Regions from separate parts of the Homo sapiens genome. Here region 2 is linked to region 1. The links come from fine-mapping of genetic effects on gene expression. A gene starts in region 1. The other region holds a variant in brackets. All regions are shown on one strand. Distances are between the middles of the regions. Region 1 holds the start of NEK7 (NIMA related kinase 7). Region 2 has its middle 39 kb from the start of ATP6V1G3.

Evidence for each region. PIP is the estimated chance that this variant, and not a neighbour inherited with it, causes the effect. A credible set is the group of variants that fine-mapping cannot tell apart.
Region 2: its variant is the best candidate, but not a certain one, in a credible set for the expression of NEK7 in whole blood (TOPMed, PIP 0.56).

The regions. Positions count from the first base shown.
Region 1 is chr1:198,155,459-198,158,373 of GRCh38, forward strand. NEK7 (NIMA related kinase 7) reads left to right here and starts at 1,540. Exons shown (of 10, transcript NM_133494.3): 1 at 1,540-1,818. RefSeq lists enhancers at 726-785, 2,216-2,265 and a silencer at 1,376-1,975.
Region 2 is chr1:198,578,039-198,580,953 of GRCh38, forward strand. No RefSeq gene overlaps it. Among named protein-coding and RNA genes, the nearest start is that of ATP6V1G3, 39 kb to the left of the region's middle. The variant C/A (reference allele first, on the strand shown) is at 1,567.

The DNA of each region.
Region 1 (2,915 bases):
TTTTTTTTGGCCTTTCCGACTACAATATAAGCTCTATGACAGCAGGCACTGTATATCTCGGTGAGCTGTTGTATCCTCATTCCTTAGAACATTGCCTAGCCCATTTATGAATATTTGTTGAGCCACATGAATCAAGGCCTCCTTTTGAGATCGTGAACGTTTTCATTTATTTATTTATTTTTTTGAGACGGATTTTCGCTCTTTCACCCACGCTGGAGTGAAGTAACGCGATCTCTGCTCACTGCAACCTCCTCCCCGCCTCGGGTTCAAGCGATTCTTTTGCCTCAGCCTCCCCAGTAGCTGGGATTATAGACTCCTGCCACCACGCTCGGCTAGTTTTTGTATTTTTAGTAGAGACAGGGTTTCGCCATGTTGGCCAGGCTGGTCTCGAACTCCTGACCTCAGGTGATCACCCCCCCCCCCACTTGGCCTCCCAAAATGCTAGGCTTACAGCCATGAGCCACTGCGCCCGGCCATTTTTCTTTTTAAAAATAAACTTTCCAGATCTTAATTTCATGGCTTTAACATTTTAAATGTTTGAGGTATAATCTACTCATTCTTGGCTCTAATCTTTTTGTCAGGGAAGTTAAACTAGTGAGAGACCTATGAACAACAGCAACAATTTAATGAGCACGTCTTATATGCCAAGCTTTGTGGTTAAGCACTTTGCTTTATCTCACTTAATTCTAACTATGGTCCTAGAGGTTGGTATTACAACTAATCTCCTTTTACAGAGAGTTACTGAGACTTGGAGAGGTTAAATAACTTGCAGCCAGGTCACAAAATTAATCACTGAGTTGAGACGACAATTAAGGTATGGCCGACTCCATACTGCCTCCTAGCCGTCTCCTCGAGTAGTTCATGCCCTGTTAACTTAAGTCGTGAAGCTGCTGGTGTCAAAGCATTCCTTTTGCAGTTTCGTGTACTAGGGTTCTGGGTGATTTTGCACATATTTATTTCAAAGATCCTCCGTACCACACCAGGGAGTTTACCTTCTGGAATGTTGTTGAAGCCCCTGTCCTCTATGCTGGGACACTTTCATGCAACGTTTGCTTAGCCAGACTCAGGAAAACGCCTTTTTTTTTTTTTCTCATTTCCCTGCACTCCACATTAAACACAGAGGTAGTTTAAATCACCTGGTAAAAGAAGATGGGATCACAAACGCTGTGGTCCAGAAGGGAACATCAGTAAGTCGGTTCACCGCTTGCAAGTGGGGGCACTTACATATAAATGAAGAAAAAACAAGTTCTTAAAAAGCAGCCGACCCTGGGTTCTTAAAAAGCAGCCGGGGAAGAGGGCTCAGGGGACCGGACGCGGTGCCCCGCACCACGCTAGGCCTGACAACCGGAAGAGAGGGGCCAGGAGGGGCTCCTCCAGAGCGACTTCGGCTCCAGTAGGGAAACCGCCGAGGCTCCCCCAGCTCCAGGGAGCGCCGGGGACGCAGGCGGGAAGCCTCCATCGGGCAGCCGGCCTGGACTCACGACGCGGGGTGGGGCCGGCGCCCGCCCCGCCCCTCTCCTCGGGGATGCCGGGATGTTTACACTCCTGACAGCGGCGGCAGCAGGAGGAGGATCGGGAGTCGCGGGAGGATGGGCCGCCGCTAGGCTCGCACTCCGGACGCGCCTCGCAGTGCGCAGGGTGGGTGCCCCGCGCCTGCAGCGTCCGCCGGGGCGGCGCGGCGGGAGGTGGCCGACAGGCTCCGGGCCTCGCAGCCTCAGCCCCCGGCCCAGCGCGCTTTCCGACGGCGGCGCCGCGCCGAGCCACCCGCCCGCCCAAGGTCTCTCGCGGGCGGGAGAACGGAAAACTCCCAACTTCCTGGTGAGTCGCTGCCCAGGGTTCAGGCGCCCGGACCGGGCAGCTCCTGCCGGGAGGGGCCGCCTGCGGGAGTCGGGCCGGGAGAGGGAGGTCGGGACCGCGCGGGGCGGCCTCCGGGATACCCTCGCTCGGGGTAGGTGGGGCGGGGCGCGCTGCGCTCGAGGCGGATGGGGGTTTCGGTCTTGTTCGTTGGCAGCGGTGGGAGGGGGCGGCAGGAAACTTCATACCTGGCCCCGGCTCTAGAGGCCCGAGGCCGCCAAGGGCGCCGCGGTAACTAAGAAACTCCGTGGCCACGGCGGCGGCGGCAACAGGTCTTTGGTTTCGGGACCCGAGGAACTTAAGCGAAGTCCCGCCTTCCGGCGGATGCTCATTGGCGACGTCGGTTATTTATCTCTCGCGGATTGGTGAAGTCCGTCTGTCAGGATTCGGCAGCAGCCCGACTTAGGAAAGTGAAGTGCGCTGGGAGAGAGTGGGTGGTGGGAGCCGGCAGATAGGGGAGAATCCGAAGTGGCTTCAGAAGTACAGGGAGCGTGAGAGGTCTGTCGGAGAATGAACTTGGGAGAGACTCGGGATTACAAAATGTCGGAGAGAGGGATTGCGAGGCAATAGCGAACATTGCTGGTGATGGTGGCAATGGAAAAGAAATTGAAAACTGAGGCCAAAGTCAGAGAAGGGTAGCCAAAGGAAAACAGAGAAAAGTGACAAGACCGTATGACCGCAGAACAGTGTAAGGAAGCGAGCACAACCTAGAGGATGCTGCCTTGAGAGCTAAAGAACTTCTGTTGCCTCTGTTACACTGTAGGCCTTCACTCCTAAAACCGCAGCATCCTCTATTTAGTCTTGCACTGGGAGCGTACTGGGGTCGCGGAGAGATGATGTATCGTGTTCTCACCTTGCTGTAGTCCTCACTGGGGAGAAATGCTAAAAAATATACTTAGTTTACAGTAAGATACATGTTACTGTCCTTGCGCAATTCTGGTGACTGAACTGAAAATCAGAAATACACAGAAATAAAATGATTATTCTCCTTTGAGGTTACTGAGCTCAAGGATGCAATTGAAAACACCACATTTCCATAGTTTGTAGAGCCTAATGTACCC
Region 2 (2,915 bases), 420 kb after region 1:
TTCAGTTTCATATCAATTAAATCTTTGTTTAATGCAAAGTCACAAAAAATTTCTATGTGTTTTACAAGTGTTAATGCTTTTGGTTTTGCATTTAGGTCTAGGATCAATTTTTAGCTAATTTTTGTATATGATGTGAGGTGCGAACCAAAGTTTATATTTTGCATGCCATTATCCAATTGTTCTAGCACCATTTGTCAAAAGACTATCTTTTCTCCACTGAATTGCCTTTTCACTGTTGCCAAAAAATCAGTTGTCTCTATATGTATGGGCCTGTTTCTGGACTCTGGTTTGGTCCATTGATCTATTTGTCTATTTTTTTTTTTTTTTGATGGAGTCTTGCTCTGTTGCCCAGGCTGGAGTGCAGTGGCGCGATCTCGGCTCACTACAAGCTCCGCCTCCCAGGTTCACACCATTCTCCTGCCTCAGCCTCCCAAGAAGCTGGGACTACAGGCACCCATCACCACACCTGGCTAATTTTTTGTATTTTTTTTTTTTTTTTTTTAGTAGAGACAGGTTTCACCGTGTTAGCCAGGATGGTCTCGATCTCCTGACCTTGTGATCTGCCAGCCTCGGCCTCCCAAAATGCTGGGATTACAGGAGTGAGCCACCGCGCCCAGCCTATTTGTCTATCTTAATACCAATACCACACTGTCTTTATTACTTTAACCTTAGTCTCGAAGTTAGGTAGAGCTAATCCTCTTTGTTTTTCTTTTATAAAATTGCTTTGGCTTTTCTAGGTCCCTTAAATTTCCAGCAAATTTTAGAATCAGCTTATCAATTTGTACATAAAAGCTTGATGAAATTTTGACTGGGAATACATTGAATCTATATATTAATTTGCAGCATATCTGCATTACAAAATATTGAGTCTCCTCATCCATGAACAGAAACAGTTCTGTACTTATTTAGGTTTTCTTTAATTTTTCTCAGTAATATTTTACAGTTTTCAGTTTGCATGGCTTGAGCATCTTTTGTCAGACTCATATGTAAGTAGTTGGTATTAATTGACGGTATTTTCATAGTTTTAAAAATTTCAATTTGTAACGTTCATTGGGAACAGTTAGAAATACAATTGAATTTTTATATTGATCTTTTATTCTGCAGCCTTGCTAACTCACTTAGCTTTTTTTATTAGCTTATTGTTCATTGAAGTTTTTACAGAAGTGATCACACTGCCATCAGATAAAGACAATTGTACTTTTCTCTTACCAATCAGGATGTGTTTTGTATAACTACTCTTGGCTTAGTAGCTAAAATATCTTGCACAATGTTGAAAGGAAGAGATAAAAGTAGACATCATTATCTCATTCCCCTTTTTAAGGGGAAAGCATTCAGTTTTCACTACTGAAAATAATATTAGCCATAGAATTTCCATAGGTGATGATTATTAGGTTAAGGAAATTCCCTTCTATTCCTAGTGTGCTGAGAGTTTTATCAGGAATAAATGTTGGATTTTGTCAGATGCTTCCCTCTGTATCAACCGAGAAGATCATAATAGATTTTCTTTTTTAGTTTTTTACCATGATAAATTACATTTATCAATTTTTAAATGTTAAACAAATCTTG[C/A]ATTTCTGGGACAAAACTTGATTTGGATTCAATTTGCTAAATTTTATTTAATATTTTTGTATCTATTTTCATGAAGGATATTGCTCTGTTCTTTTCTTTTTTTTTAACGTCTTTTTCCAGATTTTGTATCTAATAGAAAGTGAGGAATAATTTCTTCAATTATTTGGACTAGTTTTTTTAGAATTGGTATGAATTTTTCCTTAAACATTTCATAGAATTTACCAGCAAAACTATGTGGACCTAAAGTTTTCTTTTTTGGGGATAATTTTTTCCCATTTTTTTATTCAGATAAAATATGCATAACATAAAGTTTATTATATTAACCTTTTTTCTATTTTTAAAAATTATTTTTATAGACTTTATTTTTAGAGCCGGTTTAGATTCATAGCAAAATTGTACAGGAGGTATGGAGATTTCCCAGACCAATATATTTGTTACAAATGATAAACCTACATTGACACATCATTATCACCCAGAGCCCAGTGTTAATATTGTTAAAAATTGCTTTTTTTTTTTTTTTTTTTTTTTGAGACAGAGTCTTGCTCTGTCCCCTAGGCTGGAGTGCAGCGGTGTGATCTCAGCTCACTGCAACCTCCGCCAGCTGGGTTCAAGCAATTCTCCTGCCTCAGCCTCCTGAGTATCTGGGATTACAGGCACCCACCACCATGCCCAGCTAATTTTTGTATTTTTAGTAGAGACAGGGTTTCACCATGTTGGCCAGGCTGGTCTTGAACTCCTGACTTCAGGTGATCCGCCAGCCTTGGCCTCCCGAAGTGCTGGGATTACAGGCATGAGCCACTGCACCCAGCCCCTCTCTGTCTTTTTTAACTGCTGTTGCTTTAAAGTTTGTTTTGTCTGATATAAGAATAGCTACTCCTGATTGTTTTTGGTGTTTATTTGCATGAAATATCTTTTTCTACCCCTTTACTTTAAGTTCATGTGAGTTCTTATATGTTAGATGAGTCTCCTGAAGACAGCAGAAACTCGATTGGTGAATTCTTACCCATTCTACCATTCTGTATATATATATGTGTGTGTGTGTGTGTATATATAGATATAGATATAGATATTTTTTTTTTGAGATGGAGACTCGCTCTGTCACCCAGGCTGGAGTGCAGTGGGGCAATCTCGGCTCAGTGCAAGCTCCACCTCCTGGGTTCATGCCATTTTCCTGCCTCAGCCTCCCAAGTAGCTGGGACTACAGGTGCCTGCCACCACGCCTGGCCAATTTTTTTTTTTATTTTTAGTAGAGACAGGGTTTCACCATGTTGGCCAGGATGGTCTCGATCCCTGACCTGGTGATCCGCCTGCCTTGGCCTCCCAAAGTGCTGGGATTACAGGTGTGAGCC